Linked DNA regions of Homo sapiens: all the other regions are reported to be linked to region 7. Evidence: microRNA targets listed by miRTarBase, many of them from high-throughput screens and not tested one by one. Region 7 holds a microRNA gene; each other region holds the end of a gene's coding sequence.

Region 1 (4,067 bases), not on the chromosome of region 7:
AAAGTTAAGTTTTCCTGCATGAAACAAACAAGGAAATACAAAATTAGCCAGAAGCTAAAGGAATTTCATGTCCCTGAACAGGAAATTTAAAATGTTCTTTCACAGAGGACTGGAGTTAATATTGACAGGATGTTTAACGTTTTTATCAATGTCTTCATAGGACCTGTTCACTGTTCAAAAAATACACTTAATGGAGATTTGGCATCAGCAACCATTCCTGAAGAAAGCAGACTTATGGCCAAAAAACAATCTGAATCAGAAGATACTCTTCCATCCTTCTCTTCCTGAAGAAACTGAAGTGTCCAACTTCCTCTAAGTATTGCTATGCAAAAGCTGCTGTAATTAAACTATTGTTATAGGGAGTAGTTTTTTCCCTTAGGACTCTGCACTTTATAGAATGTTGTAAAACAGACAAACAAGAAAACAAACCACATACTTTTGAAGTGTATTTTATCTTTATATAGTTTGTTTGCAAGAGTATTTTCCTAATAACTTCACAGTATGAATGTGCATCTTTTTTTTTTGAACAAATGATGGTGTAACATTTTGACATCCATAAGGACAAATGTAGATATTTTTCTTAAAAACTCTGAGGGGACTGACAGCATGGTCAGGGTGTATTGTAGCTTATAAACATGAAATCTTATAAGGTTTCAGTTTGACAGAAGTGTGATATATGTAACTTGTGCCATGGACCAAATGGTCACTTTACCACAGCTAAAAATGAGTTACGATAGCAGCTTGATGGTGATTGTATTGTATTCCTTTAATCAAAAAGGAAACACAATATTCTAAGTATCTTTAGCCCAAATACCATGACATATTGAGCATCTTTAAATAACCAGACTGTATTGTCCTTCATATGTGAAGTTGACACTACTGATTTGTCAATACCAAATTTTGGGTTAAAGTGTTTAATTTTTATGTATTTATTTTCTTGTTGCCTCAAAAGATGATTGCATTCTAACTTTTGTGACCTACCAAATTTAAGATGTGTATACGTTGTTCTTTACGTTGTTCTAGAAAAGAGATTTTAATGCTGTAGTGACTTTGCTCACTTACACTAGAGAAATAAACAACTTTCAATGGAAGAGAATTTTAGTGCTTTTTTTTTCCTAAAATAGATATTAAGCTGCTGTTGTAAAGTATTGTTTGCAGCTCTTTCCAATATCTAGAGACATTTTTATTTATGAATATTTATACAAAAAGGAATTCTGTCAAGATGACTGCTCTATATCACTTGAGAATGGCATTATTTAATTAAAGAACAAATAGCATTTTTTGGTAGTGCCTGTCCATACCTATTGTCATTGTTTGCCTTGTAATCTGTTTTTTTGAATTCATTTTGGGCTGATAGTTTTGTTTAAGGTTTTGGATAAGGAGCACTTTAAAACAAACTGGTGTGTTGTTTTTAAGTTAATCATATGTTTAATAAATGCGTGGTTTTTGCATTCAAACACATCATATAATACATTGTATTTTTTACATTCATTGATATTCTGTCTAATCTTTATTAGGCACTAATATAATTCTAATGGATTTGAGTTTGTTTGTATATTTAGGCCTGCTGGTGAAGACACAAATGAAGCATAATTTTTGTTGCCTGTGAGCTTAGAATGGTGTGACCTATTTCATTTTATTTCAATTTATCTTGTAAGTTTATGTGGGATATTTTAAAATAATTAATATTTGGTATTTGTTTAAAAAACTGTAATTATAGGCCTTCCATCTTAAGTTTAAGATGGACATAAACAGTCTATACATTAATATGTGTTTGGGTAAACTGTATGCTACTTGAAGTGTTTGTAATTTTAAATAACACACAGGTCATCAGACTACTCTATATTCAGTGGAGTCTTTGCCTGCTCATAAGTTGTACTTCATATGTCTAATTTGAAAAAAAAAGTTTGATAATGTAGTAAGTTATGACGTTGAGCAGGTAATCAGGTTTTTCTTGTTTTTTTTTTTTTTTTAAATTTTGTAGTAAGAACTTGCACAGTATTAAGACCATGAAGGTCAGGGTGCTATTGATTGGGAGTTTTTTCTGGTAGTGAGTTTTTTTGCAGTAATAGGTTTATAAGGAAAACACCGTAACAAGCTTTTGAACTTATAGAAAATAATCACATCCATTTTCTATTGCTTTACCCAAATAGATGGGTTCGTGAAGAGTTTTCTGTGAATATTTTAAAAATACAATGCAATTATTTCTGGTTTGTATCATTTTTTCCCCCTTAAAACAGGTCCTTGAACAGGTTTGCGGTATCCCTAAGTATGTCTTTTGTTATGACTTGGAGCCACTTTTTGTTGTTATTGTTAGGAACCAAACACATCTGTGAAATCATTTTTTTTGTGGGAGTATAAATATATCTTGAATTATATCCAGGTTTTGATCAGTGAATTAGTAGCATGAAGAAACCTATAAAGCTTAAGGGAACCTTGCATTTTGAGGAGTCCTTTATTTTCAAGTGTGCCTGACTTTTTTGAATTTTAAGAAAAAGATGAACCATATAACAATTCTGTAAGAATTTTAGCTTGTCAAGTTGTTCTATACTTTATAGAAAAATTATTGGTTATTATTAGTTATTAGTAGTCCCTTTTTTTTGCTTTGTCTAGGTCATGGGGTTATTGAGAAACATGAAAAGTTATTGAGAAATTTGGAGGTTCTCTTGGCAGCCTATCAGTGATCTTCTAAGCAAAAGCAGTGCTTGTTTTTCATTTCAAGTGCTTGCTCACTATTCTTTGGGAATCGCAGGCCTCCATGACTAAAGGGATTTTGATACAATTCTTTTATAAATGAGCTGAATTTGAATTTTCTTACATCATATGGGATTATTGCATGATCTTCAGTCAGGAAAAATCCAGAAATGGATGCTATTGCTTAAACTTAAATTCCAAGGCAGAAGATAGAGTATCTTCATTTCCACAGATGCCCTAGAACCTTTGACCTTGAATTGTAGTTTTTCAGTATGTATTATCACATTTAGAAATGTAAAAATCACAAGATCTCAGGAAATGCGCCCTTGTGATATGTTAATACCAGATTGCTGTTTACACTAATTCCATATACATGATAATACCACTAATTTGGACTCTGCTAGTTCTTTTATTTAATAAGGCACCTCTAGGTCTGTACTTTGAGCCTTGATCTGGGTACTTGGTACAGAGGGAGTGTCCTGGCCTGAAAGAAAGCCAGATTAGGCTGCAGGAGTTCCTTTGAGGAGGTCTGTCTTTTAATAACCCTGGCGGGTAAATGAATGGTAGGTAGCTGGTAGGTAGGCCTTCTTGTTCATGTCTTTCTGTCTCCCCAATCCACTCTTTGAATTCATGTTGAATTCTTAACTTGAAATTCTGTTGTTTTTTTTTTAATTTTAGCTTTCTTTTTATTAAACTAGTTAATGTACATAGTTTGAAAAAATCAAATAGAACTAAAAGGTTTATAGTGAAAAAGTGTAGTTCCCTCTTCCCCAGTTTAGCATTCCAAAGACAAACACTTGGAACTCTTAGTGGTTTGTGTTAGTATTTACCTTCCTGTTTGAAAATGTTATACTACTTTTTGTTGACTTATCAATTTCAGAAACAGTTTCTCGAATACCTTTTATGGTAGACAGGATTTACTTTACTTAAACTCTCCACCTCCCACATTTTTCTTCCCCCACCCCTCCCAAAATAGATTTATATTCACACAACTTTTAGTTAGAACAAACTTTTTGTGAAATAGATAGACATAAATGTAGTTCACTGATGTACCACATGGTTAACTATCATTATTTCCTTTTTACTAGAATGTTATTTTTTCTGGGGTTGGTATTGCCTGATTTTCAAATTTGCTTAGTTTTTAATGTACCTGTCACAATGACTATCCAAAGGCTTAAATGCTGAAAAACATCAGATAATCGTATCAATTCTCTTAAAAAAGTTTTTAAAAATATTTTGTCATCCTTTAGGGACATTTCTTCCACAGTCCTTCATCTTCTGCCATTTGTACTGTTGCCCTCCAGGCCTGTTCTATGGTTCAGCAGTCATTCTGAAACTCCCTTTAGTTTTTAGTCTCACATTAGGTTTTTTTT
Region 2 (4,067 bases), not on the chromosome of region 7:
CCCGGGGAAGGCAGCTGATGGAAGAGCCAGCCGGAAGTTCCGCCTACTTCCCCTACCTCTGTCAATCCGACCACGACTTCTCCTTGAAAACCACGACTCCTGACACAGTAGTTCCGCCTCCTCAGAGGCCCCCGGGATGAAGTGACCCAGCAGAAATACCAGAGACCGGAGACGGAATGGCCCAGGGTCAGCCTCCACCCGGAACCGGAGGATGCAGCGAAGACGTCTCCTTGAAGTGGGATACGGATGTGAACCGGCCCAAGTGCTCGCCGGTCCGTCAAGACGCGCTGCCCGGCTGCTCCCGTGTCCAACTCGGGCTGTGTCCGCCCAGGCGGGCCTGTGCGCGGAGGTCCTACCGCTGCACCTCCGCGCCTACCGCAGCCCGCACCCCCGCACCCGGGCAGCCAACGTGCAGGAGGCCCGGGCGCCTTCAGCGGAGACGCCCCGACCGCGGCTGCCTCGCCGCAGCGTTAGCTTTTACCTACGTGGGGAAGTAAGGGGAATTTGCGACCGCCAGCCCAGTCCGCTGAAAACCTGTGGCTGACCCACCCTCTTCCTTTTTCTGACCCACGTTGGCTCCAAAAAAAAAAATCCCTAGGGATCCACTGGGAGCCAGTTGAGCAGGAGTGGATTAAGACACGTGTCGCAGGGTGTATGGTGGAAAGAAACGTTTTCCTTTGCTAGAATGAACCTTGGGAAGGATCCCTTTTGATTCCGTAGATGTAAGAGGCTACACAATATTATGGAAGAAGGATGTAAAAAAAATGTATTATTATTTTTTAGTTACCAACTGGACTGAAGTAAAAGACCTTTTAAACTTATTTACTTATTCTTTTATTTTTTTAAAAGACGGAGCCTCGCTCTGTCGCCCGGGCTGGAGTGCAGTGGCGCGATCTCAGCTCACTGCAGCCTCCGCCTCCAGGGTTCAAGGGATTCTCGTGCCTCATCCCGAGTAGCTGGGATTACAGGCATGCGCCACCACGCCCGGCTAATTTTTGTATTTTTAGTAGAGTCGGGGTTTCACCATGATGGTCAGGCTGGTCTCGAACTCGTGACCTCAAGTGATCTGCCCGCCTCAGCCTCCCGAAGTGTTGGGATCACAGGCCACCGCGCCCAGTCAACTTTTTGTTGCTATTGTTGTTGCTTTGCTTTTTTTATTTTATTTTGCTTTTTTTGTCTACATCAAGGGTATCCAATCTTTTGGCTTCCCTGGGGCACATTGGTAGAAGAGGAATTGTCTTGGGCCACACATAAAGTACACTAACAGTAACAATAGCTGATGACTTAAAAAAAAAAATCGCAAAAAAAAAAAAAACCTCATGTGTTTTAGAAGTTTACAAATGTGTGTTGGGCCGCATGCAAAGCTGTTCTGGGCCGCGGCTTGGACAAGCTTGGTCTACATGCTTAACTTGAAAGTGGCTGAGAAGAAAGAGGATGGGTATAACTGCATCTGCTGAGGAGTTTCCAGGGGGAAAAAGGATTTAAACCTGAATTTCAAATATGTCTTTGAACATGGCGGTTAGACTAAGGTACCCCAAATAAGGACAGTTAGCTGGAGAAGACACCGCGGCCTCTAAGGGGAACATCACTACAAAAATAGAGTTGAGATAGTAACCAACATCAGAATCTCAGTCTTAAGGGAGGATGAATTTCATAAGACCCTGACACTGTGGACAAAGAAAATGGATGGGTGTTTAGGCTAATAAGCTATGTAAGACATAGGATGGCAAGAGCTGAGCAAAAACACTGTGTGAGAAAGATGAAGGCAACAATTCAAAATGTAGGAAAAAGCAGCCAGGCATGGTGTTTCATGCCTGTACTCCCAGCATATTGGGAGGCTAAAGCAGGAGGATCACTTGAGGCCAGGAGTTCAACACTAGCCTGGGCAACATAGCAAGGCCTCATCTCTATAAAAAATAAAATTACTGTTGGGAGGGCAACATGGGCGGATCACAAGGTCAGGAGTTCGAGACCAGCCTGGCCAACATGGTGAAACCCTGCCTCTACTAAAAATACAAAATTAGCCAGGCGTGGGGGCGCATGCCTGTAATCCCAGCTACTTGGGAGGCTGAGGCAGGAGAATCTCTTGAACCTGGGAGGCTGAGGTTTCAGTGAGCCAAGATGGCGCCACTGCACTCCAGCCTGGGTGACAAAGCAAGACTCTGTCTCAAAAACTAAATAAATAAAATAAAATTACTGGCCAGGTGTGGTGGCTCACACCTGTAATTCCAGCACTTTGGGAGGCCAAGGCAGGCAGATCACTTGAAGCCACAAGTTTGAGACCAGCCTGGCCAATGTGGCAAAACCCCATCTGTACAAAAAAAAATACAAAAATTAGGTGGGCATGGTGGTGCCTGCTTGTAATCCCAGCTACTCGGGAGGCAGGAGAATCTCTTGAACCCAGAAGGCAGAGGTTAGTGAGCCGAGATCGTACCACTGCACTCCAGCCTGGGCAACAGAGCAACACTCTGTCTCAATAAATAAAAAAATAAAAATAAACATTTTTTAAAAATAGCCATGTGTGTTGGCATGCCTGTAGTCCCAGCTACTCAGGAGGCTGAGGTGGCAGGATCACTTGAGCCTAAGAGTTCAAGGCTGCAGCAAGTTACAGTCCCGCTACTGTGCCCCAGCCTGGGCAACAGAACAAGGCCCATTCTCTGAAAATAAAAATAAATAAATTCAAAAGTTATTTTAAAGATGTAGGAAAAAGCTTTATGCACAAATAAAGCCATGTCTTTATTTTTTATAATAGTGAAAAATCAGAAATAAGCAGACCCTCAATAAGGAACTGGCAAAAATAACAATATGGTATAACCTATTGAAATAAATGCCGCTATTAAGTCATGCATCTTAAAATCATAATGCAAATAAAATGACATAAAAACTGTTCATAACATCATGAGAAATGAAAAATGAGGGTACAAAATTATATGTTTTTTAAACCTTGGAAATAAAAAACATTGGTAGAAAATATACCAAAATTTTTACCATTGGTTATGTTTGAACAATTGAAATGGCTTTTCCCCTACTTTTTTCTCTGTGTTCCAGTGTAACAAGAATATAGTAGGGCCGGGCGCAGTAGTTCACACCTGTAATCCCAACACTTTGGGAGGCTGAAATGGATGGATCATGAGGTCAGGAGTTTGAGACCAGTCTGGCCAATATGGTGAAACCCCGTCTCTAGTAAAAATACAAAAATTAGCCAAGCGTGGTGGCACTTGCCTGTAGTCCCAGCTACTTGGGAGGCTGAGGCAGAAGAATCACTTGAACCCAAGAGGCGGAGGTTGCAGTGGGCCGAGATTGTGCCACTGCACTCCAGCCTGGGCGACAGAGAGAGACTCTGTCTCAAAAAAAAAAAGAAAGAAAGAGAGAAAGAGAGAGAGAGGGAGAGAGAGAGAGAGACAGAGAGAGAGAGAGGAAGGAAGGAAAGAAAGAAGGAAGGAAAGAAAGAAACAGAACATAGTGTAACAAAATCAAAACATTAAAAATATAAGGCCTAAAACACAACAGATTCAGTTGTCAAACTACTAACATCTTTATTTTGTCAAGATATTTAACAATATTAAAAAGTTCAGATTTCTTCATGGTCATGTCTTTTACCAGCTTTTCAAAGATTCATTCAGTAGTAGAAACAGCCAAATGCTGCTACAACGCAGAATAAACTGTCCTAAAAAATAAATACAACACACACACACATCCAGAATGTTAGTACTAAAGAGGGAATGAGAGCAGCACAGGCAACTGAAACTAACACCATCTCAGATCTTTCCAATTTTTTTTTTCTTTTTTGAGACAGGGTGTCACTCTATCACCCAGGCTGGAGTGCAGTGGTGTGATCTCAGCTCACTGCAGCCTCGACCTCCTACACTCAGGCAATCCTTCTACCTCAGCCTCCAGAGTAGCTAGGACCACAGGTGCCTGCCACCATACCAGGCTAATTTTGTTTATTTTTTGTAAAGATGAGGTCTCACTATGTTGCCCAGGCTGTTCTTGAACTCCTGGGATCAAGCAATCCACCCATGTTGGTCTCCAAAAGTGCTGGGATCATAGGCGTGAGCCACCTCACC
Region 3 (4,057 bases), not on the chromosome of region 7:
AAATGTTCTCCCCACAAAAAGAGATGAGCATGTGAAGTAATGAATATGTTAATCAGCTTGATTTAGCCATTCCACAATTTCAAAAAAAAACATGTTGCACACCATTTTTATTTGTGAATTTAAAAATAAATAAATAAAAAGAAAAGAAAACATAGAAACTGAAGGTCATCACTTAGTCATACACAGGTATCAATTACTGTGTGGCAATTCACATTGCACTTTACATACCTTGTCAAAAATAAGGGCTTTCTTTTTTTAAAAAATTTTAATTAATTAATTTATTTTATTTTATTTGTTTTTTGGTGAGACGAGTCTCACTCTGTCGCCCAGGCTGGAGTGCAGTGGCGCCATCTCGGCTCACTGCAAGCTCCGCCTCCCGGGTTCACGCAATTCTCCTGCCTCAGCCTCCCGAGTAGCTGGGACTACAGGCGCCCGCCACTACGCCCGGCTAACTGTTTGTATTTTTAGTAGACACGGGGTTTCACCGTGTTAGCCAGGATGGTCTCGATCTCCTGATCTCATGATCCACCCACCTCGGCCTACCAAAGTGCTGGGATTACAGGCATGAGCCACCGCACCCGTCCTGGCTTTCTTTACTATCTTTCTAATAGATAGTGGTTTTACATCAGTTGGAATTTCTCTTCCTATTTCTGCTCTGGGTGTGTGTGCGTGTGTTTGTATGTGTGTGTGTTCAATTCCAGTAAAAACTCTGGTTCTCTAGATCAGATAGGCATACGGGCCTGTCAGGTAGTGTAAATGAGTTAAGTGGGCCAGTGTGAGTGTAAAACAACTAGACTCACAGGGACTGTAGTCAACTAAAGAACATAAGCCCTGCCTAAAGATATTCCAAAAGATATTTTAAATCAGTGTGAAAGTCCAGGCAAGTCTACTGACTAAATACAGCAACAAATGATCAATTTTGATCTCTTGTTGGATAGCACACTCAACGTTAAAGAGTAGACACCGGTCGTGATAGGGAACACTTTCCTCCCAGTGGGTAACAGGTCTGATAGTGGCTTGCTTTGGAAATGCCAGAAATTCCTGACATATCTTTCAAGAAAGATAATGTGATAAATGATATGCCATTAGCTTTTTAAATAATAAAGCAGCCTGGGATTATATATCCAACCATTCCATTTTATTTCCTTTAATAAACAAAAACACAAAAGAAAAATGTAAGCAAAACAAAACACTTTCGTGGTCTAAAATCTCCTAGAAATGATGGCGAAATTATACAACAATGTGAAAAGTAGATTTGAAGGGTTTCTTTCTTGTCCTAAGTGTAGTGTTGCACATTGATTTATGAAGTCTCAACACGGCACAGATTTAATTAGAGCTCAATATTTTCTGGGAAATTGCCTCACAGTGGGACCTACACATTGAGAACAAAGCAGGTAATGGCTTTCAGAGACATGGCCAGGCTGCGATAACATCTACACTTTCTGTGATGGCAGCCAGCAAAGAATTAGCTATCAGTCACAAAGAAGGTGTGCTAAATTTGCAACAGAAACCCTGCATGCCAAATCTGACCCTCAGATATATTTTTCTCTTGTCCACAAAACATTTCAAAAAACTTTGGGCCAATAGGAAAAATTGGAAGAGTTTACTTTAAGAACCTTTCTTAACCACTAGAAACAGCTGGCAACACTGGGCCCTTACTCTGCCAGAGTAAAAATCTGCCAGAGCCAAAGAGTGGCTGACTGTAGCCTTCAGATTGGGTGTGCTGTGTCCTCTCTGTTTCCAGGACTGATCACTGCCTGTTGTCTCCCAGACACCATGCCTGAGTCACAGTTGCCAATCGTCACCCCTCCTGTTGTTTTTAGACCTCACTCATTTCCCTCATTTAAAAGACCTACTTGTTTTGGGAAGCTATGTGAATTTCTGTCTGAAGTTTGAGTAAAGATATTCCAACAATTAAACTTTGCACCAATTAACTTTGACATAATTCCTTTAACATATACTGTAGGACTGTATCAACTCAGTTGCAGCAGAATTCTATTGAGGTTACATAATTAGTGAACATATAAAATTTATAAGGTGCTACTGAAGATCACATTTCCCAGAAGACTGTGCACCAAAGGCAGGGCTTTCTCAAACTGAGAAGGAAGCTAAATAATTTAACTGGCCTTGACAGAAAAAAAAAAATTGCCAAATCGTCTGCTCGGGCTTAAATATTATATTTACTTTGAGCGGGCCGCACACAAATGCAAAAAGGGGCCGGGTGCAGTGGCTCACGCCTGTAATCCTAACACTTTGGGAGGCCGAGGCAGACGGATTGCCTGAGCTCAGGAGTTCGAGACCAGCCTGGGCAACACGCTGAAACCCTGTCTCTACTAAAATACAAAAAAATTAGCCAGGCTTGGGGGTGGGTGCCTGTAGTCCCAGCTACTTGCGGGGCTGAGGCAGGAGGATTGCTTGAACCTGGGAGGCAGAGGTTGCAGTGAGCTGAGATTGTGCCACTGCACTCCAGCCTGGGCAACAGAGCGAGACTCGGTCTCCAAAAATAAAAAAAGAAAAATGCAAAAAGGTACTTCATATACAAGATGTTCACCACAGTGCCTGACACTTTATTGTTGCTATTCACAAAACTATTCTTATGAATAAAAGACAGTCTAACAACTAACTGTCTTTGTAACTCAAGAATATTGAGGAAGAAATTATTTTAAAAGCGAATCACATTTTAACACTTTCATATCTAAAGTAACAGCTGTGGAACTAATAATAACATCTCTAAGGTTTGGAATGGTACCCTCAGCATTTTCTCTTGCCCCAACCCACCACCCCCATAACAGGATGCGTTATAACACTTGGATTTTGTTCTTTACTTCTTCTTATTTTTAGTAGATATTAAGACATCTCCATTGTAAATACACATCCCTCCTTTCTAACTGCCCATATCTCCGCCATCGGTTCAAGACAGTGGTTCTCAATTTTAGTGGACAGAAATATCAACAGACTGGCTTATCAAAAATTCAAATTTTCAAGGCATCACTCCCAGAGTTAATAATTTGGTAGACTGAAAACAAGCCCTAGAAGCTGAATTTTTAAAAAGAGAACCATAGATGCACATGTTCACAGATTTTAAGGAACATGATATTTGCTTTATAATATGTACTTGCTTTGTTTTAATTACTGGGTATAAACATATTTTTACATGAAATAAAACAAGAAATCAGTCTAAAACATTTATATTTCTTACATGATGTGGAAAAAGAAATGAGGATTAAACATCCCCATGAACGTATTTATTATTGTTATTATTATTATTATTTTGAGATGGAGTCTTGCACTGTCACCCTGGCTGTAGTATAGTGGCCTGATCTCGCTCACTGCAACCTTTGCTTCCCAGGTTCAAGCAACTCTCCTGCCTCAGCCTCCCAAGTAGCTGGGATTACAGGTGCCTGCCACCACACCCAGCTAATTTTTTATATTTTTAGTAGAGACAGGATTTCACTATGTTGGCCGGGCTGGTCTCAAACTCCTGACCTTGTGATTTGCCCGCCTTGGCCTCGCAAAGTGCTGGAACTACAGGCATGAGCCACTGTGCCCGGCCATTTTTAAAATTATTTTTAAAGATTGAAAATTTCAGTTCCAGTAAATATAATTTTTGTTGATTAACAAATTAAGAACTATTTGAAAAGGTAAATATTTAAAGTTTACCTGTTAAGATTTTGTCTCAAAGGATTGATGATAGAGATTAAAAAAACTCTAGGAGGGCATTTAAATAAGAAAATTTCATCCATAATGGTATTCTGCAAACCATTTACTTTAGAAGTTAAGTTTCTGGTCTATAAAATAAAATTACCTCTCATGTTTAAAATGACAGAAGTCTTTAAGGTGTTTCGGGCCTATGAATGTGTCTCATCATGTTTTTCTTCAGCATTTACTAAGTCTTCTGAGTTCTTATGAAGATCAGATTCACCTAAAAATATAAGGAAACAAAAGCAAAACAAAACAAAATAAGGCTTTGGAAAAAACTAATAAGGTTAGGAGACTGAAGAACTTTATAAAATGTTGAAGACTGAATTTTACAATGGATTTTGTGGCACATTTTTTC
Region 4 (4,067 bases), not on the chromosome of region 7:
ATGGCTTCTGCTCAGTCCAACCCTGATGTAAGTCACCTCAAGCTTATTCAGAGTCTAATAAAGGAAAATGGGCCATTGTCACCTCATCAAGTCCTTCACTATAATTACTGTTAGGTCTTCTCCTACTTCTTTAGCCTTGACTTCCTGCCTTATTTTCTTTCATCCAGCATCTAATCTTCCTCTTGCCACCGCCCTTTCCTGCCAAACCGTGGGTAACAGCAAGGACTTAAAGGAGCCCTTCCCATTTACTTCTCTTACTTCTTACCCTCCTGCTTCCCCAGGATGTCCTGACACTGTCCAGCAGCACAGAAAGTGAGGGGGAAAGTGGGACCAGCCGAAAGCCCACTGCTGGTCAGACTTCGGCTACAGCGGTTGACAGTGATGATATCCAGACCATATCCTCTGGCTCTGAAGGGGATGACTTTGAGGACAAGAAGAACATGACTGGTAGCCTGGAAAAATTTTGGGAATGGTGGGAAGAAATAGTAAGAAACTTGGGATAGAGCATTTTTTAAGGAAGCTAAAGAAGTAGTGGGTAAAAATTCAGATCCTAAGAATTGGAGCATCTCTGGGAGGGCTTTCTGACTCCAAGCTAAACTATTGTTTGACACATCCTCTCTCATTTCCATTTTTTTACTCTTTCCCCTCAGCTCCTTTGTCTAGCAGATCTAATTATGCTTGAAAAAAAAACCTGCTACTTAGGATCTTTGAGTTCCAGCTTATTGGTGTTTCTCAGCTGCAATGTTGGGAGAGAAATAGGGGTAGAATGTCCATTCATGATAGAATGTCTGTTCATGAGTTGGGATGGGTCCTGACCCCATTCTCCCTCCTGTCCAGGTCCAATGAAGCGTCAAGTGGCAGTAAAATCAACCCGAGGCTTTGCTCTTAAATCAACCCATGGGATTGCAATTAAATCAACCAACATGGCCTCTGTGGACAAGGGGGAGAGCGCACCTGTTCGTAAGAACACACGCCAATTCTATGATGGCGAGGAGTCTTGCTACATCATTGATGCCAAGCTTGAAGGCAACCTGGGCCGCTACCTCAACGTGAGACCCCTCTCCCCACCTCTAGATGCTGGATTATCCCATGGTCCTCAGATTTCTTTTAACATACTCTATAAGCCCTTTTCTTGTTATAAACTCTTGATCTCAAAGGATCTTAAAGAGGTAGCTTTCTTTCAAAGCATCTATTATAATGGGGAGGGTCAGATGGCATCATTTTTCTTCCAACTCTCACTCTCCCTGCAAAGCCAGGTTCAGTTTCCCTGGTTCTTATTTGATCCTGTCCTTAAACCTACAGCACAGTTGCAGCCCCAACCTGTTTGTCCAGAATGTCTTCGTGGATACCCATGATCTTCGCTTCCCCTGGGTGGCCTTCTTTGCCAGCAAGTAAGGAGTCAGGAAAGGGGATGACTGGGGAGGGGCAAGGACCACTGAAGTTCTAAGGGCCCCTCCTCCATTCATGATCCAACTCCACCTACATATTCAGTAACCCCAAGTGCCTGGGTTATCTGCTGTCTTTGCCACACACCATCCTTTTCTTCCTCTTCAGAAGAATCCGGGCTGGGACAGAACTTACTTGGGACTACAACTACGAGGTGGGCAGTGTGGAAGGCAAGGAGCTACTCTGTTGCTGTGGGGCCATTGAATGCAGAGGACGTCTTCTTTAGAGGACAGCCTTCTTCCCAACCCTTCTTGAACTGTCGTTTCCTCAGGAACTGGGTCTTCCTGATTGTTGAACCCTGACCCGAAGTCTCTGGGCTAGCTACTCCCCCCAGCTCCTAGTTGATAGAAATGGGGGTTCTGGACCAGATGATCCCTTCCAATGTGGTGCTAGCAGGCAGGATCCCTTCTCCACCTCCAAAGGCCCTAAAGGGTGGGGAGAGATCACCACTCTAACCTCGGCCTGACATCCCTCCCATCCCATATTTGTCCAAGTGTTCCTGCTTCTAACAGACTTTGTTCTTAGAATGGAGCCTGTGTATCTACTATCTCCAGTTTGTATTATTTCTTGAAAGTCTTTTAACAATATGATAAAACTAAGATTGTGGTTTTGTTTCTCTCTCTCAGCCCGATACTCCCAATTCTGGATCTTTCAGTGAGGTATTATCCCCATCCTCCCCTGTGGGCTGCTGTCATTCATCTTCTACCTTGTCTACCTTTGCTTCTTGCATGTGAATTTTTTTAGATGGAGTTCTCGCTCTGTCACCCAGGCTGGAGTGCAATGGTGCAATCTCGACTCACTGCAGCCTCCGCCTCCCGGGTTCAGGTGATTCTCCTGCCTCAGCCTCCTAAGTAGCTGAGATTACAGTCGCCCGCCACCACACCCAGCTAGATGTATTTTTAGTAGAGATGGGGTTTCGCCATGTTGGCCAGGCTGGTCTCAAACTCCTGACCTCTAGTGATCCACCCTCCTTGGCCCCTCAAAGTGCTCAAATTACATGCATGTGAAATTTAAAAAAGAAAATATTACATAACTGCAAGGAAGGCATAAGAAAGACTCTCTTCGTTTATTTAGTTGATCCCCCTTCTCAATTCCTAATAGTCTGACACTTATTGCCATGTTTTATTTAATATTTTTTATTTAATCTTTTAATTTTTAAAAAAAACCCATTAACAGTACATTTTGGTCTAAAATGGTCCCTCTGCTGAAATGCTAGGTGCTAGCCGTAATTCTGGCTTTAAAACCAAAACCCCAAATATTTAATAAATAAAAATTAGAATTAGTTGCCATTCTACTCCAAACCAGCTAGCCTAGCTGAAGAGAAGAGGGAAGGGGGAAGAGGCCAGAGAAAGGAGGAGGCAGTCAGATCTTAGACCTGTCGCTACAGGGACAGCTGAAAGAAGTAGCACTAAGAAAGATCATCCGAGCAGTCCCCAGTACAGCCCCCACTTTTTGGCAGAGGTAGGGTAAGGGTTATGTGCACCCTCCTCCTACCCTCAATTCATTTGTGTCATAGAGGGAGAAAGTTAAAAGCTCAGCTTTGGTTTCTGGCCCAAGTTAGGGAGCTTAGAAAGGTTAGCCTTGGTCCAGCTTTGGCAGAATGAGGCCCACAGATGGGACAATAAGGCACAACCCTGGCTCTGGAGGTCAGGGAGTCAAAGGCAAACAGCTGGGGCCAAATTCTCAGAATAAGGAATGTGAATTGTAACCCCTACCCACAGAGAGCTGAGGGAGGGCCTCAAAAGCAGTAGAAAGGATGACTTGGCGGGTAGGGAGGAAAATACGACCGTCCCCCTCTAACAGAATATAACCAACGTCCCCCTACCTGGGGATAGGCTGGTTAGAATTTGGTTTAAAGGCAACTGGGTGACAAGCAAGGAGGGAGGATGCAGAGAACTCTCCTCTCACTTTCTCCTTTTTCCCCAGAGCTTAAAGTGACCCTATAGCGCAGGGAGCGGGGTAGTTCCTTGGCTTTATGCATTAATCTGGGAGGCAGCTGGAGTAATGGTTCAGTCATTCTTACGATGGTTGTTATTGAGGATGGGGTGGCCATTGGCTAGGGGCCGGCTCTTTGCTCCTCCCCCAGCTGCAGCCTCCTCCCCCTCTGAGCTCTCTGTTTCTTCCCGGTCACTGCGTTCATCTTCTACCAGCTGTGGAAAAGGGACAAGAAGGGTTATTACATGAGATCCTCAAACCCCTAAGTACTGCTTCTCTCTGAGGGCTTGTTCCTGTTATACCCAGGGCTCCACACTAGTTTTTTAGAGAGTTACTGGCAAGATGGGAGTTCAGGAAGTTGTAGAGAGTAGTAAGGCCTACACAATGGGAACAGGGCTTCACCTTTCCAGTTATGAACTTGTGGGCCATGCGCAAAATGAGGTAGGCCCAGAAGATATGCAGCAGCTGTAGAACTCCCATCATGGAATTGAAGAAGTAATAGCCAAAGAAGGCAGGATAGAGCTCCAGTGGGTACACCAGGGTGCAATGCAGGATCCTGAGGATTCAAGGAGAGAGAGAACGTGGACAAGAGCAGGTCAGACACCGGGGAGATACAGGAGGGGAAGAAAGGCAAGGCTCCTGATTTCTTCAGAACAGGAGTGTAGCCTAGCTGCCTACTCACCAGA
Region 5 (4,065 bases), not on the chromosome of region 7:
AGTCTCATTCTGTCGCCCAGGCTGGAGTGTAGTGGCCCGATCTCGGCTCACTGCAAGCTCCACCTCCTGGGTTCATGCCATTCTCCTGCCTCAGCCTCCCAAGTAGCTGGGACTACAGGCGCCCGCCACCACGCCTGGCTAATTTTTTGTATTTTTAGTAGAGACGGGGTTTCACCGTGTTAGCCAGGATGGTCTCGATCTCCTGACCTCGTGATCCGCCTGCCTCGGCCTCCCAAAGTGCTGGGATTACAGGTGTGAGCCACTGCGCCCGGCCGGGTTACTTCTTAATATACAAACGGGCACCTCCTCTGATGAGCACCTGGGAATGGCCGGAGGAAGACCAGGCCCCAAGCCAGCCCCCCAGATGTGAATCTGCCCCTATTCCCTAGCCAGGCTTGTTGAAAAGTCCCCAGATGTACATGGGATGGGATCTCTTCCTGGGAGAGCAGACCCCAACATCCACCCAGTGAAGCTGAAAGTCACGTCAAATCTGAAAGGCGACTTTGTTCTCCCTGGCTTCATCCCTTATGCATGAAAGAGCAGACGGCTGGCGCTCAGGATTCATAATCCGAGACATCCGGAGACTAAAGACATTGGCCAAATTTAAACCGAAAGATAAACTTGTTGGGTGTCTTTTCAGATTATGAGGGAAAGAAGAAAGGGGAGGATTTCTTAGTCATCCATGAACCACTGAGAATTCACAGGGAGTCAGCCTGATGCTGATATGAGGGCTCTGCCTCTGGGTTCTGGACGCTTAAAATACCAGTTTCAAAGGGATAAAGAGATACATGTCCAAGTGGACCCCCACAAGCCACAGCTGAGGGGCAGAGGCCTGGGGAATCTCCGGAGAGTGGCTGAAAGAACCTGAAGAGAGTGGCCTTTCTGTGAGGGTCACCGCACAGGTCAACAGGTGGTCTCGGGCAGCATATGGCCAGACTGGGCTCCTGGGAAGCCAGGACATGGCGGGGTAAGGGCCACACAGGTTGGCGGCTCAGCTGTGGCCCCGCCCAGCACTTGAAGCACAGCTGCCTTCCTCTCCCAGCCCAGTGTCCTCAGCAGTAACGGGAGCTAATGCCATCTGCCATCTGCGCTCAGCACAACCGTTGCAATATGGTGCAGAGCTCAGCACAACACCCGGCACATAGTAAGAGCTCAGTTAACACTGGTTGCTAACTATTTTACTTTACCATTTTTAGACATATTGAGTTCCAGTTGCCTTTGGTTCTGAGATAACCTGAATGCACAAGTGTTCTACCAACAATGTGATGATGGTCACCACTGAGTCACACAAAACCCAGGGTGGTAAAAAGCGGGGAGGTCATTGCACCATTTTCACAGACGGGAAAATCAAGGCTCAAGAGGTGACTGATCAAGTGTCACAGCCTCCAAGTGGCAGAGCTAGGGCTAGACCCTGAGTCTCTCAAGACACTGAAATACTTCCCACCATCCCCCAACACACCCAAACCACACATCCTGAGTTCATCTGGGCCACGCCTGGACCCCTGTCCCCAGTACTGAGACCCAGGCCCAGTCCACGTTCAGCCCGGAGCAAGTCTGTGGAATGATAAAGTGTTGCGGATCCAAAAAGTGATGGAAATAATGGACATCCTCTCTGTGGAAAACGCCCACGTGGACACGTACACAACCTCATGCACACTGCAGGGGACTCACAGCCTGGCCACAGTCCCCCGCCGGGGCTCTCAGACGCTTCAGCCGATGCACCAGATCCCTGGTGTAGCCTCCATGAGTCATCCAGAGGTGACCTCATCACACACACACCCAGCTGCTGGGTGAAAAGGGGGCCCCACTGGGCCTTCAACCCCAGGAACCTAAGACCATCACCCCCACTCAGTGCTGCCCCTGGGCACGCGGCCCCACCCAGCCTGTGGTCACTGCTGCTGCCATCCCCAAAGGGCAGGAGCCGCCGGACGCTGCCGCCAGTCTACTCCACCTGATGAGCGTTGCTTGAGTTTCAAAACGAGAACATTTATTATTTGTTTTTTCCTCATTAAAGTTTCACAAATAAAGCACAGCAAGACTTGTCTGCAGACACACAGGAGGCACACGGACAGCCCGTCAACCAGAGATGGAGACGAAGGCCAGCGTGGCTCTCACAGGGCAGCGCTTCTCAGAACCCCTGGCCCCCCTCGTGCCAAGGCTGGCCTGTGTCAGGCCTCGCCCACGCCGCCTTATGACAAATAGAGGCCGGTGCCAAGGAGGTGGCTACAGAGCAGGGGCAAGGAAGTTATCCTCATGTTCTGATAATGACCCTGCAAATCCCACCCCACCCTCAGGCACCTCCGTCTAAGGTGTCCGGTTACTCCAGGTAAGGAGGTTCCCAGGAGGGCCGTGTTTTCCCTAGGGCTGATGAAACTTGCTCCGACAAGCCAGGCCACTGGGAGGCACCTCAGGATGGAAAAGATGCTGGAGGCTTTGCTGGCTTTCAGGATGCCGGGAGCCCCACGGGGGCAAAAGGGGAGGAAGGAAAGCGATTCTAAAGACAGATTGCTGCTGGTCTGTCCCGACCCAGGGTCACAGTGTCAGCAAAGAGAACAGCATGATTCTGACAGGGTTGGATTTTGTTTCACCCTCGGAATGAGCAGACTTCAAACACTTGCATTTTCACGGAAATCAACAAGAGAGACAGCTAGCAGGACACGAGGCTCCTGCCAGTTCTGTGTGGAAAGGCACCAGATGGTTTGTTATGAAACACATTTTGGTCAGAAAATAGCTGGGGTTTTTTGGTTCCTGGGAGGACAACAAAGCTAGAAGAAAAGGAGGTGTGAGTTGCGTGAGGAGGAGGCAGAGAAGAAAGCAGCTTTGGCATCAGACCTGGGTTCTACTCTTCACTCTACCCCTCCACGCTTGAGGCCTGTTTCCTCATCTGTAAAGTGGTCATAGAATATTTCCAAATAAATCTAGGTGTCAGGTTTCACACATCATCCCAGGAAGTATGGGGAGGCGGGGCGCAGACACTCAAACGGACACACAGAAACCAGAGGAAGAGCACAGCCTTGCGTGGAGGGGAGAAGGCAGGCAGGGGCCCGACGGAGGGCGGTCACAGAGATGATCCCCGTGTCAGTCCCTGGGAGCAGGGAGCAGCCAGTTACACTGGTTCCAAGCACAGGTGGAGACCATCCACGGGGACCTTGGGCCCCTTCTCCTGGAGGAAGGGCAGAAGGAAAGCTGGACTCAATGCAGCACCATGGAGGAGCCCTCAGGGTCACACCTGCTGTTAATGCTTTAAAGTGCCAAGCTGTATCGTCTTTGGTCAGGAGCTGCCCCTTAGTCTCTAAGAGCCTGGGGTCCAGGGCTCAAACCCCCGCCTGCTGGGCCCTGAGGAAGCAGAGCAGGAGGACACATTCCCCTTCTGCGGCTGTGGGTGCTCTCCTGTGCTGGGGGGTGGGGGGAAAAATCACTGAAATCCAACAGCTTTCAGGAAGCAGGATGCCCCCAGGGAAATTTGGGTCCTTAGAAAGAGAGAAGGGACTAGAAATGCTTTGGTCACAGTCCTGATACCCACAGCCAGGGCAGAGCTTGCTCCAGGAGAGCAAGCGGGAGCCGATTACAGCACTGCACATGTCACGCAGCAGGAGACGTGCCTGACGCAGACTGGCTTCTGAGCATAAGCCAGAAGTCACTGAATAAATATTCAAGGCATCTTTTGGTTCTCAGAGAAAGAGCAGGGCTTAAAAGAAAAATCTCTCCCCTGCCTGACTGGCTGCAGCTCTGATCTTCAGGCTGACAATGCTGAGGGCTGGGAGAGGTGGCAGGCGGGCCCCAGAACTGGCTCCCCCGCAGCAGGTGGCTTTGGTCCATCACGTGTCAGGGCCGCTTGTGTCCGGCTGGCCCCGGGCCCTCAGAAGCTGAAGAGGTCATCCTGCTCTGTGCCGCTGCTGTCAGGCTTGTCCCAGTCGACAGGCGAGAGGCACTGGGCGTAATGCATGTCCTGGGCTGTCAGGCCAGTGTCCAGGACCTGAGGGTTTGTCCGAGACTGGGCAAGCCTGGAAGGCAGAGCTGTGTGAGCCGAGAGCCTGGGTGAGGGCTGGCGCGCCCCAGGGTCAG
Region 6 (4,067 bases), not on the chromosome of region 7:
AAGAGAGTCAGAATGTTTTCAACTGAGTCACGAAGCTGTCCCAGAAGCACCCGACATAGGGTGGAGGTCAGACACATTCCCTGGCTGCCCACAGGCGTGAGCCTTCCTGCCAGGGGACAGTAACAGGGCCCGAAGGGCTGGGGGTGCCGCTGGCTTCCCAGGGCCAAGCGCTCAGAGCTGGGCCGGACTTGCCCATGCTGGCTTCAGCTCACATTGCCAAGGAAGATGTGTATTGGGGCTGTGCAGGCTGCCACATTCTTGCTTTTTCTGTAGACAAAAGTCACCTCCCTCGGATGGCTGTTTACTTCAAATCAAACTTCTCTGACGAGATTTTAATCTGAAACTGCATCTGTTCTTCCCAGCTTTATGTGGGGCCAACAAGTATCTCCAGCCTTTCATGACTGTAATCCCTCTTTAAGGCAGGGAAAACATATTTCCCTCCCATGCCTTCAGCAGTGTGAAAGAAGGATATCAAAGAGAATCAGAGGGAAAAAATACCAAATCCACCCAATCAGTGCCAAAATAAACTTTCTCTGAGGACATCAGTGTTTGCATCCATCTAAAACCACCAGAGGTTCCACCAAATGCTTGAGGGTTTCAGCTGTACAGTGTCCAGGAAAAAACCCAAATGCACACAGCAACTGCAGTTTCTTCAAGTTTTGCTTTAAATGTGAAAACCAATATCGTCCCACCAGAACACTGAGAAAAACTAAGGTCGCTCAGCCTTCAAATGCCCCAAACCAAACTGATATTGGTCCCTATTGAAACTATTAAACGCAAAAACGCTTCCTTCAATTTGCCAAGAGGTCATTTTAAGGCCCCCAGATATCGATTGTCTTCTGTTTGCATATAGAGGCAATATAAGAAAAATATAGGCGTCTTCATATTCACCTTGGATAACCCTATTCCCTCCAGAACTTTCGTCACCACGTGGTCTATACATGATGACATGTGCAACCACACATTACATCAACTAGAAAGCGTCCATAGCACCACTTCCGGTTCTAGTGGGAGTTAATTAAATACAAGGAGAACATTTACAAAACCACCGAGGAGCCTCACGGCACAAAGGATATTAAATAGTTACAGGGACATAAATAATTCTGAAGAGTCTATCACGAAGATGCAAATTAACTCCTAAGTCACTCTCTGGCGTGTCATCCTTTTTGGTCATTCATCTGCATTTAGTTTCAGTGACTTCAGAACTATTTCTTGCAGCTGACAACATATCCTCAGGAGGCCAACCACCTGCCCCCCTCTTTCACCAGATGATCAAGTGGTTTTACTGAAGTGAGCTGGGAAAACTTGGGCAACAAGCCCACCTGAATGGTGTTCTTGTTTTCAATCTCACTTCAAAGATGGCCTTTTTTGGGGGCCAAGTAACATGATTCCCAGCAGGAGATTTCTGATAAAGCTCAGGATGGTCCTTCCAAGTGGGCCCCATTTAATGCAAGGCTGAGCCTTTGTGGCCCTATTTTAAAAGGAACTCTCAAAGAGAGATAAGCCCAATTTTGACTTTGCAAACACACTCAACAGACCTGACAGGCAGCACACCCAGCTGTGAGCTGGCCTGGCTGCCCTCTCTGTGGGAGCAGAGGGGAGACGAGTTGTTAACAGGCTAGCAGGGTCAGCCCCTGAGGCAGACGTGGTGCTCAGCCACATAGCCTGGGACACTGCTCCCAACTCAGATCGTACTGAAGGTGTTGGTGCAGGAAGCTAACCCCAACTCCGACCCCCAGCCCAGCAGTGTTGCCTGATCAACACTGTGAGCTCAGATGCTGTCCTTTTCTGGGGAATGAGACGCCACATGTCCATAAGGTGACGCTTTCTTGCACAGACCCCCCGCCGCCCCCTCGGAGTTATTTATTACACAGTACGCTGCTAAAGCTGTCAACATTTGTCAGCACTTGATCTTGGGGATTTCTCCATGTTACTGCAAAATCTTCCTGCCACAGTAAGTGCTTTTTGGTGAGGGCTAAACACAAAATGTTAGAGCTAAAGTGAGGTTTGTAAACATTAAAAACAGTTCAAAGAGGGAAAACCTGACAAACTAAAACAACTTTTTTCCATAAAAGATATAATTACTCTCTAATTTTTTAAAAAAACTACTGCATCATGGGGACTCACTGAACTCATTCACCACACACAATAATCTTCACTTTATCAAGAATCAATCAGAAACCTTAAGTAGCTAGGATTTTTCCCCCCAACAACTCCCAAGAATGATGTCTACAGTTATGACACTGAGGCGCCCAAAGCGACAATTAGTGCCTTCTGAAACATGGGTGGAAGGGTGTGTTCTGGTGCAAATTCAAGTATTTTCAAATCCTAGACGAATCTGCTCAGAATCATTTTAGAACTCTTTGCAGGCATTTAGAAAATTAGCACACATCCCTAAAATAGAGGGGTGTGTGTGTGCATGTGTGCGCGCACGCGTGTGCATGCTGTTTTTTAACACAAACACCTCCCACCTGCGGTTCATGAAGCCAGCAAATGGGCAAGTGCTTTGGCTGGTGGAGTAGGCTTGTTTCTTTCATGGCTTTTACCTGAGAAGGTAAAATGACTGAAAATCTGCAATTCAGCCTCAAAGTATTTAGGGTAGGCAGGAAACTGGAAAACAAGATAGTCCCCATAACAAGATGGCCCCCATATTCCTGGAGAAGAATCTGGGGTTCAGGAAGGTGATTCATTTGAGGAAGAATCAAGTGATTTCTCAGCAGAGTAGGAAACAAAAGGTCACCCTTCCTTGAGTCAGAGGTCCCTGGGAGCCATCCTAACAGGACATCAGCTTTCCCCAGCCCTGTGGCCTTTGGGCTGGTGCTGGCTGCCTGGGGGCCCTGGCATGGAAGATGAGGAGTGGGCTGGATCCCAGCACGCAGACTCAACACTGACTTGGAGCAGGTGGTGCCTAAGGCTGCCTGAGAACCACTGCCGACTGACCGTTCCAATGCTGTCCCTTCATTCCTTCATATTTCCCCCCTCTTAGCAGCCCCATTTAATCCAAAGTCTTGTTACAAATACACACGACAAGGTGGCTCAGAGTCAAAGGAAGCCTGTGCTTCAGGGCAGGTAAGACCTCAAGTGGACCTGGGCAGTGACGCCGGCTGCTCCACAGCCCCAAACGCTGAGGAACGTGGGCCTCCCAACTCCACCGCGGACCCGCCCACTGGGCCACTCGGGAAACCCTTTCCCAAAATGAACTTTTACCAAAGAGGACAAAATTCAACTGAATCACATGGAAATCTGACAGGACAAGGGAAAGAAAACTTGACTGAGAGACAGGCACGAGGACGGGAGGGAGGAGGATCCAGGCAGGTCCTCACGTGTCCAGGCGCTGGATCTCAGGGCGACTGTCCACATCCCTGGACTCCGTGCGGGCTCGGATGTAGTCATTGGTGCTCTGCTGGCGGACGCTGACTCTCCATTTCTGCACTGCCAGGAATGTGTTCACTGCATATGCCGCAGTCGCCAAGAAGCCAAATATCTAAAAACACACCAGCACAGTTAGTCCTCGGGCACGTGGCCTGGCCCCTCAAGGCTTCTGTGGTGACCCAAGCCACATGCAGCCCCTTCCTGCTCTGCCAGCTGATCATTACAACCCTGTGCCTTCATTCCTTGATCTCTTCCCCCTCTCAGCAGCCCCATTTGATCTAAAGTCTTGTTTCAAATACATATGACGGGGTGGCTCAGAGTCAAAGGGAAGCCTGTGCCCAGCCCTGCTGGATGTGTGGCTGTCACACCACAGCTGAGTCTCTAGTCATGTGACACACAGAAAATCTTGCCTGACCTAAAGACAGCCTAAGGTTTCTTTTGAAGTATTTTGGACGTATAAAAAAATAAATCACAAAAGTACCTCTTTTACTGCAACTTCAGGGCCTCTGGTCCCAGATGAGAAAATACAGTGCAGACAAAATGTAACATAGACAGAAAATCAGGGTTTCGCATGTGGGTCCCAAATCAAGCCACAGGGCCAATGTTCCACATCACAGCCCCCATCCCACACCTGCCTCTCATGGGGCAGCTCCAAGTAAGCAGCTCCAGAGTAAGAAGCACAGAGTTTTAATTAT
Region 7 (4,067 bases):
CTGAACCCAGGAAGCAGAGGTTGTAGTGAGCTGAGATTGCACCACTGCACTCTAGTCTGGGTTACAGATCAAGACTGTATCAAAAAAAAAAAAAAAAAGAATCAGCTGGGTGTGGCATCACAGACTTTTAGTCTCAGCTACTTGGGAGGCTGAGGCGAGAATATTGCTCGAGCCTAGGAGTTTGAGACTGCAGTGAGGTATGATCGTGCCACTGCACTACAGCCTGAGCAACATAGCAAGACCCTGTCTCTAAAAAAAAAAAAAAAGAAAGAAAAGAAAAGAAAACCAGATATAGCACGTTGTTATTTCCAGAACCTGATGAAGTGTCTAGATGTCCTATATTTTTGAAGACTGTCCTTTGAAGTCTCTATTTCAAAGGTGCAGATCAATATGAGTCTAGATTTCAAAGCTGATCTTGATGTTTTCTCATAGTATGATAGTAACTGAAACACATTAAGAGAAAAGAGTTACAAAGCCATTTATTGTTGTCTTTTAGAATTGTGGAAGGGAATATAAATTTTCACTATGAGACCCTGAGTACTTTGGTTGTGCTTTATAAAGTTTGGAGCATTTTAAGTAGAAATTACACCATGTTTTAATACAGTTTTGTTTTTTTTGAGAAATCTTAACTAAGAACAATGCTGTTTGTCTGTTCTGATAGTTAATATTTATAGGCATGTTTTCATCTAGAGTTTAGCCATATTTATCATCTCTTAGTATATAGGTAAAATTTTGGATTTAAAGTAAGAGTAGAAATTATTTCTGCTGATAAAAGTGAAAACTGAATTTCTTTGGAGTAGCATAATCAGCATGTTACTTAGGTACTTTCTGTAAAGATGCTGCATTTTTAGCTGTTTTTAGAGCTCCCTTACAGGCATGAAAATAAATTAGTCAGCAGTATTCTCTGCAGAGCTGGCAAAAACAATCGATAGGTATTTTGGAAGTACAGGTAACAATAATATAATTATAAAGTTTATATAGTATTTACGAATTTTTCTTGAATAGAAATTGAATGTGAAAAGTAAACGTAAAATATGAGTGAATCACCTGATGTGATATATGTTGTTTTTAGGTTGGTACTAAGATAATTTCACAGGCGTTTCTTATTTGCTTACTAATTCCCACAAAGACACATATTACAAATCTTACTGAATATGTGAGCAACTCATAGTTTTCCTTCTCGAATGTTGTGATGCTTTTTTTACTTTTTAAATTCTGAAATATGGTCTGTAAACAAGACTATGTTGGCTATTTGAAGATTTGATAAGCTGTACTGTATTTTGGTGTTTAATGCTTTCCTTACAACTGTAAACATGCTGAGTGCTATCTACAAAATATAGCTGAGTCTATTCGGTAATAGGATACTTAGAGTGTGTTTTCTCTAATGTATGCTCATGCATCTACTCTCAAACACCATATTCCTTGTAATACACAAATGTACTTTCTGTGACTGAGGTGTAATTAATAGGAGGAAGAAGATCTTGAATGAAGTGATAAGATATATATTTATATATGTCTCCTTTTGCCCACAGTCTTTTAGAGAATGATGTTCATTTTGAAATGGAGGAGTGGTCAGGAGTTGAGAATGTGTGAACATCTGGGTCTTTAAACTACTCTTGTCTTCAGTAATCTTCATTAATTGCTGAAATGTTTGTCTCTATTAAATAATATTAAATTATCTATAGTTTTATTGCAATCATTAAGAAAATTATACGGATGTTAGAGTAATTGTCACTTTTTTTCTTTACTTCAGTTTATCCCCACTGAAGGAGAATATTGTGTGTATATTTTTTATAAGGGACAAAGAAGACAGTGAGGAGAGTCATAGTATTTATTGTTAGCAGAGTTCTTCATTTTACAGCTGTGAAAACAAATATGGAGAGGTGAAATATTTCATGAGTAAAAGTAGTGATGCTTAGCATTTTCTTTCTTTTTTGAAGACTAAAAACCTTTGATTCAGGGTCAGAAGAACTAGATAACTGTTTTAAGCCTCTCCACAAGATATTCTACAGTTATCATCTTTTTCACCTTACCTGCTAACATTCAGGTAAATAGCGGTAAAATTAAAGGCCAATACTATGGAAGATAGTGACTAAACATTTCTAGAGTGTTATATAATGTTACAGTTTTCTTTAATTTAAATATGCACACATCCATGTAAACCACACTGTACAATCCCATTATGTGTTCAGGTGGGTTTTAGGTGACCTTTCCAGATATTTTCTTCCTTTGAAGGAAGTTTTTGTTGTTGTTGTTATTATGAAGCATAGCCTACATTTTATTACCAGTTCTTTTCTTTTCTGAAGGATAAGAAATTTAATACCAAGAGACCATAATAAGTAAAATTTTTATTTGAAATCCTTAAGTCATCCATACATTTTTCATAAAGCTTTTTATAAACATCTTTAACCATTCTAGCTTTTCCAGGTAGAATTAACAGTAACAAGTTATTTGATTATAATCACAGTCTGCATAATGTAAATAAGTTGAAATTAGTTGGCAAGTAATTGATATTCACAAATGAAAACGTTGGTTGTCCCGTAGTAATCAATGCATAGCTACAGCTGGTTGAAGGGGACCAAATCCATTGAAGAGGCGATTTGGTTCCATTTTACCAGCTCTAGCAAAGCATTGTAGTGCTGCTAGTTTGGAATCCAAAACAGTTAAATGCTTTTCATTGGTAAAATTACAGTCATGGACCTTCTACAAGTGTTAGAAATTATCATACCAATGCTTCAGTCACTGAATGTCAAATTTTCCATTTTGAAGTCACTTTCCTACTGTTTTCCTGCGCTTAATGGTTTAAAAATCTTTTCCTTTTAACACATTACTGCATTAAGGAATGATCAATGTACGTCTTTGTTTTCAACATCTTTGCTTCTTTTTCTTTTTCTAATCTTGTCCACAGCCGAAGTCTTTGCTTAATTCTTACATGTAGACAATAAGCTATTTCAAAACCAATAGTATTTAAAGGAACAAATAGACCTTGATGTATTTTAGAGTAATGTTTTCCATTTATCTCTAGGCAGCAAACCAGATAAATAGTTAAGCTAAAAGGTTGGGGAAGAGTTCAGTTAGTCACCCCCTTCTACTGCCACTGCTTCTTTTAGCATTATAGTTGAGGGCTAATAGCAAATTGTTGATGGGTGTAGGAATATCAGTGGCCTTAAGAAAGTACCTCTGCCCTTTGATTTATAAATAGATCACATGTGTATTCAGTGTATTGCTTGGACTTGTGTCGAAAGGAACTACCATGCATGCCAGTTTTTCTTTGTTTTTGCTTACGTGGTGTTACTAATCATAGCTTAGTAATTTAACCCTTTTAAAGGTCTATTTCCTTGACTAAGTTCTTTGTCATTTTGGGTACAGATTGCCAAGTTACTTCTCATTATCGCCTTAGTAATACATGGTGGTTAGTTACAATCCATGGATACAAGTATTAAAATCTATTGTGTGGATAATACTTGAAAAATCAGAGTAAATTTTTGTTATAATGTGGTTTTACTGTTGATTTCAATGTCTTGAGAGGGGTGTCTTCTTGCATAAAATAAAAGTTTGATAAATTATAATTTGCCTATAAAGTTAAGTGCTCTCAGAGAAATATAGAGTAGAGAAATATTCTTTACAGTTACTATTTTAAACTGAGAGGTCAACGCTAATTCAGGCAGTATGCAAATGACTCTTACACTAAGTATATTCTGCGTCTGTTGGTTGGTAAGTATCATACTGCTGGTGAAATTAACTACAATTCTTTTTCATCATTTTTTCTAGTAGAAGTGAAACAGGTGTTAAACTGCCTAAACTTAAGTGCTGAAGATAGCAATAATACTGGCTTCTATTTTTACTAGTTATATGGGAGCTGTTTAGCAGATCCAGTTGCTCAAGTGTGTTTTTGGATGGCAGTTCAGTTTCATATACTGGCCATATCGGGGCAAGGAGAGGCCATGGGAAAAAAATAGTACAGCATTTGATAATGTCAGCATCTGTTATCCCTGTCAGGGAGACAGTTGAAATGTTTGAGTTATACCAGTGTCAGCAGATGCCCAGAGTTTAATATGTACTCAGTT

What was found. Region 7 holds the annotated microRNA hsa-miR-133a-3p (UUUGGUCCCCUUCAACCAGCUG, at 2,562-2,583, opposite strand). A microRNA usually pairs through its seed, bases 2 to 8, with sites in the 3' UTR of a target mRNA and lowers its output. Matches are read on the target gene's strand: a 7mer-m8 pairs with bases 2 to 8, a 7mer-A1 pairs with bases 2 to 7 and ends in A, and an 8mer does both.
Region 1: miRTarBase lists PLEKHA3 as a target of hsa-miR-133a-3p. Seed matches in the 3' UTR shown: 8mer at 693-700.
Region 2: the mRNA of DYNLT2B is a reported target of hsa-miR-133a-3p. The part of its 3' UTR that is shown has no 7-base or 8-base seed match.
Region 3: miRTarBase lists PDE1A as a target of hsa-miR-133a-3p. The part of its 3' UTR that is shown has no 7-base or 8-base seed match.
Region 4: the mRNA of CERS2 is a reported target of hsa-miR-133a-3p. Seed matches in the 3' UTR shown: 7mer-m8 at 3,028-3,034 and 7mer-A1 at 2,628-2,634.
Region 5: miRTarBase lists LDLRAP1 as a target of hsa-miR-133a-3p. Seed matches in the 3' UTR shown: 8mer at 3,810-3,817, 7mer-A1 at 3,500-3,506, 7mer-A1 at 3,267-3,273 and 7mer-A1 at 2,716-2,722.
Region 6: the mRNA of CMTM4 is a reported target of hsa-miR-133a-3p. Seed matches in the 3' UTR shown: 7mer-A1 at 1,166-1,172 and 7mer-m8 at 752-758.

The regions. Positions count from the first base shown.
Region 1 is chr2:178,503,600-178,507,666 of GRCh38, forward strand. PLEKHA3 (pleckstrin homology domain containing A3) reads left to right here. Exons shown (of 8, transcript NM_019091.4): 8 at 161-4,067. The coding sequence ends at 288. Among named protein-coding and RNA genes, the nearest start is that of TTN-AS1, 18 kb to the right of the region's middle.
Region 2 is chr3:196,287,708-196,291,774 of GRCh38, forward strand. DYNLT2B (dynein light chain Tctex-type 2B) reads right to left here. Exons shown (of 5, transcript NM_152773.5): 5 at 3,512-3,667. The coding sequence ends at 3,620. PCYT1A (phosphate cytidylyltransferase 1A, choline) reads right to left here and starts at 19. Exons shown (of 9, transcript NM_001312673.2): 1 at 1-19. RefSeq lists an enhancer at 1-162 and a silencer at 336-445.
Region 3 is chr2:182,143,231-182,147,287 of GRCh38, forward strand. It overlaps PDE1A (phosphodiesterase 1A), which reads right to left. Exons shown (of 15, transcript NM_001363871.4): 14 at 3,806-3,922. The coding sequence ends at 3,849. Among named protein-coding and RNA genes, the nearest start is that of PPP1R1C, 160 kb to the left of the region's middle.
Region 4 is chr1:150,962,693-150,966,759 of GRCh38, forward strand. It overlaps CERS2 (ceramide synthase 2), which reads right to left. Exons shown (of 11, transcript NM_022075.5): 9 at 4,064-4,067; 10 at 3,784-3,937; 11 at 2,494-3,596. The coding sequence ends at 3,456. It overlaps SETDB1 (SET domain bifurcated histone lysine methyltransferase 1), which reads left to right. Exons shown (of 22, transcript NM_001366418.1): 18 at 1-27; 19 at 282-447; 20 at 838-1,049; 21 at 1,303-1,391; 22 at 1,555-2,045. The coding sequence ends at 1,672. Among named protein-coding and RNA genes, the nearest start is that of CERS2, 10 kb to the right of the region's middle. RefSeq lists enhancers at 2,089-2,233, 2,726-2,870 and cis regulatory regions at 2,161, 2,797.
Region 5 is chr1:25,566,787-25,570,851 of GRCh38, reverse strand. LDLRAP1 (low density lipoprotein receptor adaptor protein 1) reads right to left here. Exons shown (of 9, transcript NM_015627.3): 9 at 1,966-4,004. The coding sequence ends at 3,860. Among named protein-coding and RNA genes, the nearest start is that of LDLRAP1, 25 kb to the right of the region's middle. RefSeq lists enhancers at 1,889-2,612, 2,613-3,337, 3,338-4,061.
Region 6 is chr16:66,618,739-66,622,805 of GRCh38, forward strand. CMTM4 (CKLF like MARVEL transmembrane domain containing 4) reads right to left here. Exons shown (of 4, transcript NM_181521.3): 4 at 1-3,484. The coding sequence ends at 3,320. Among named protein-coding and RNA genes, the nearest start is that of CMTM3, 16 kb to the left of the region's middle. RefSeq lists an enhancer at 1,144-1,645.
Region 7 is chr18:21,823,151-21,827,217 of GRCh38, forward strand. It overlaps MIR133A1 (microRNA 133a-1), which reads right to left and starts at 2,635; the gene lies at 2,548-2,635. All of the region lies in intron 12 of MIB1 (MIB E3 ubiquitin protein ligase 1), which reads left to right. It overlaps MIR133A1HG (MIR133A1 host gene), which reads right to left. Exons shown (of 3, transcript NR_110369.1): 3 at 2,329-4,067.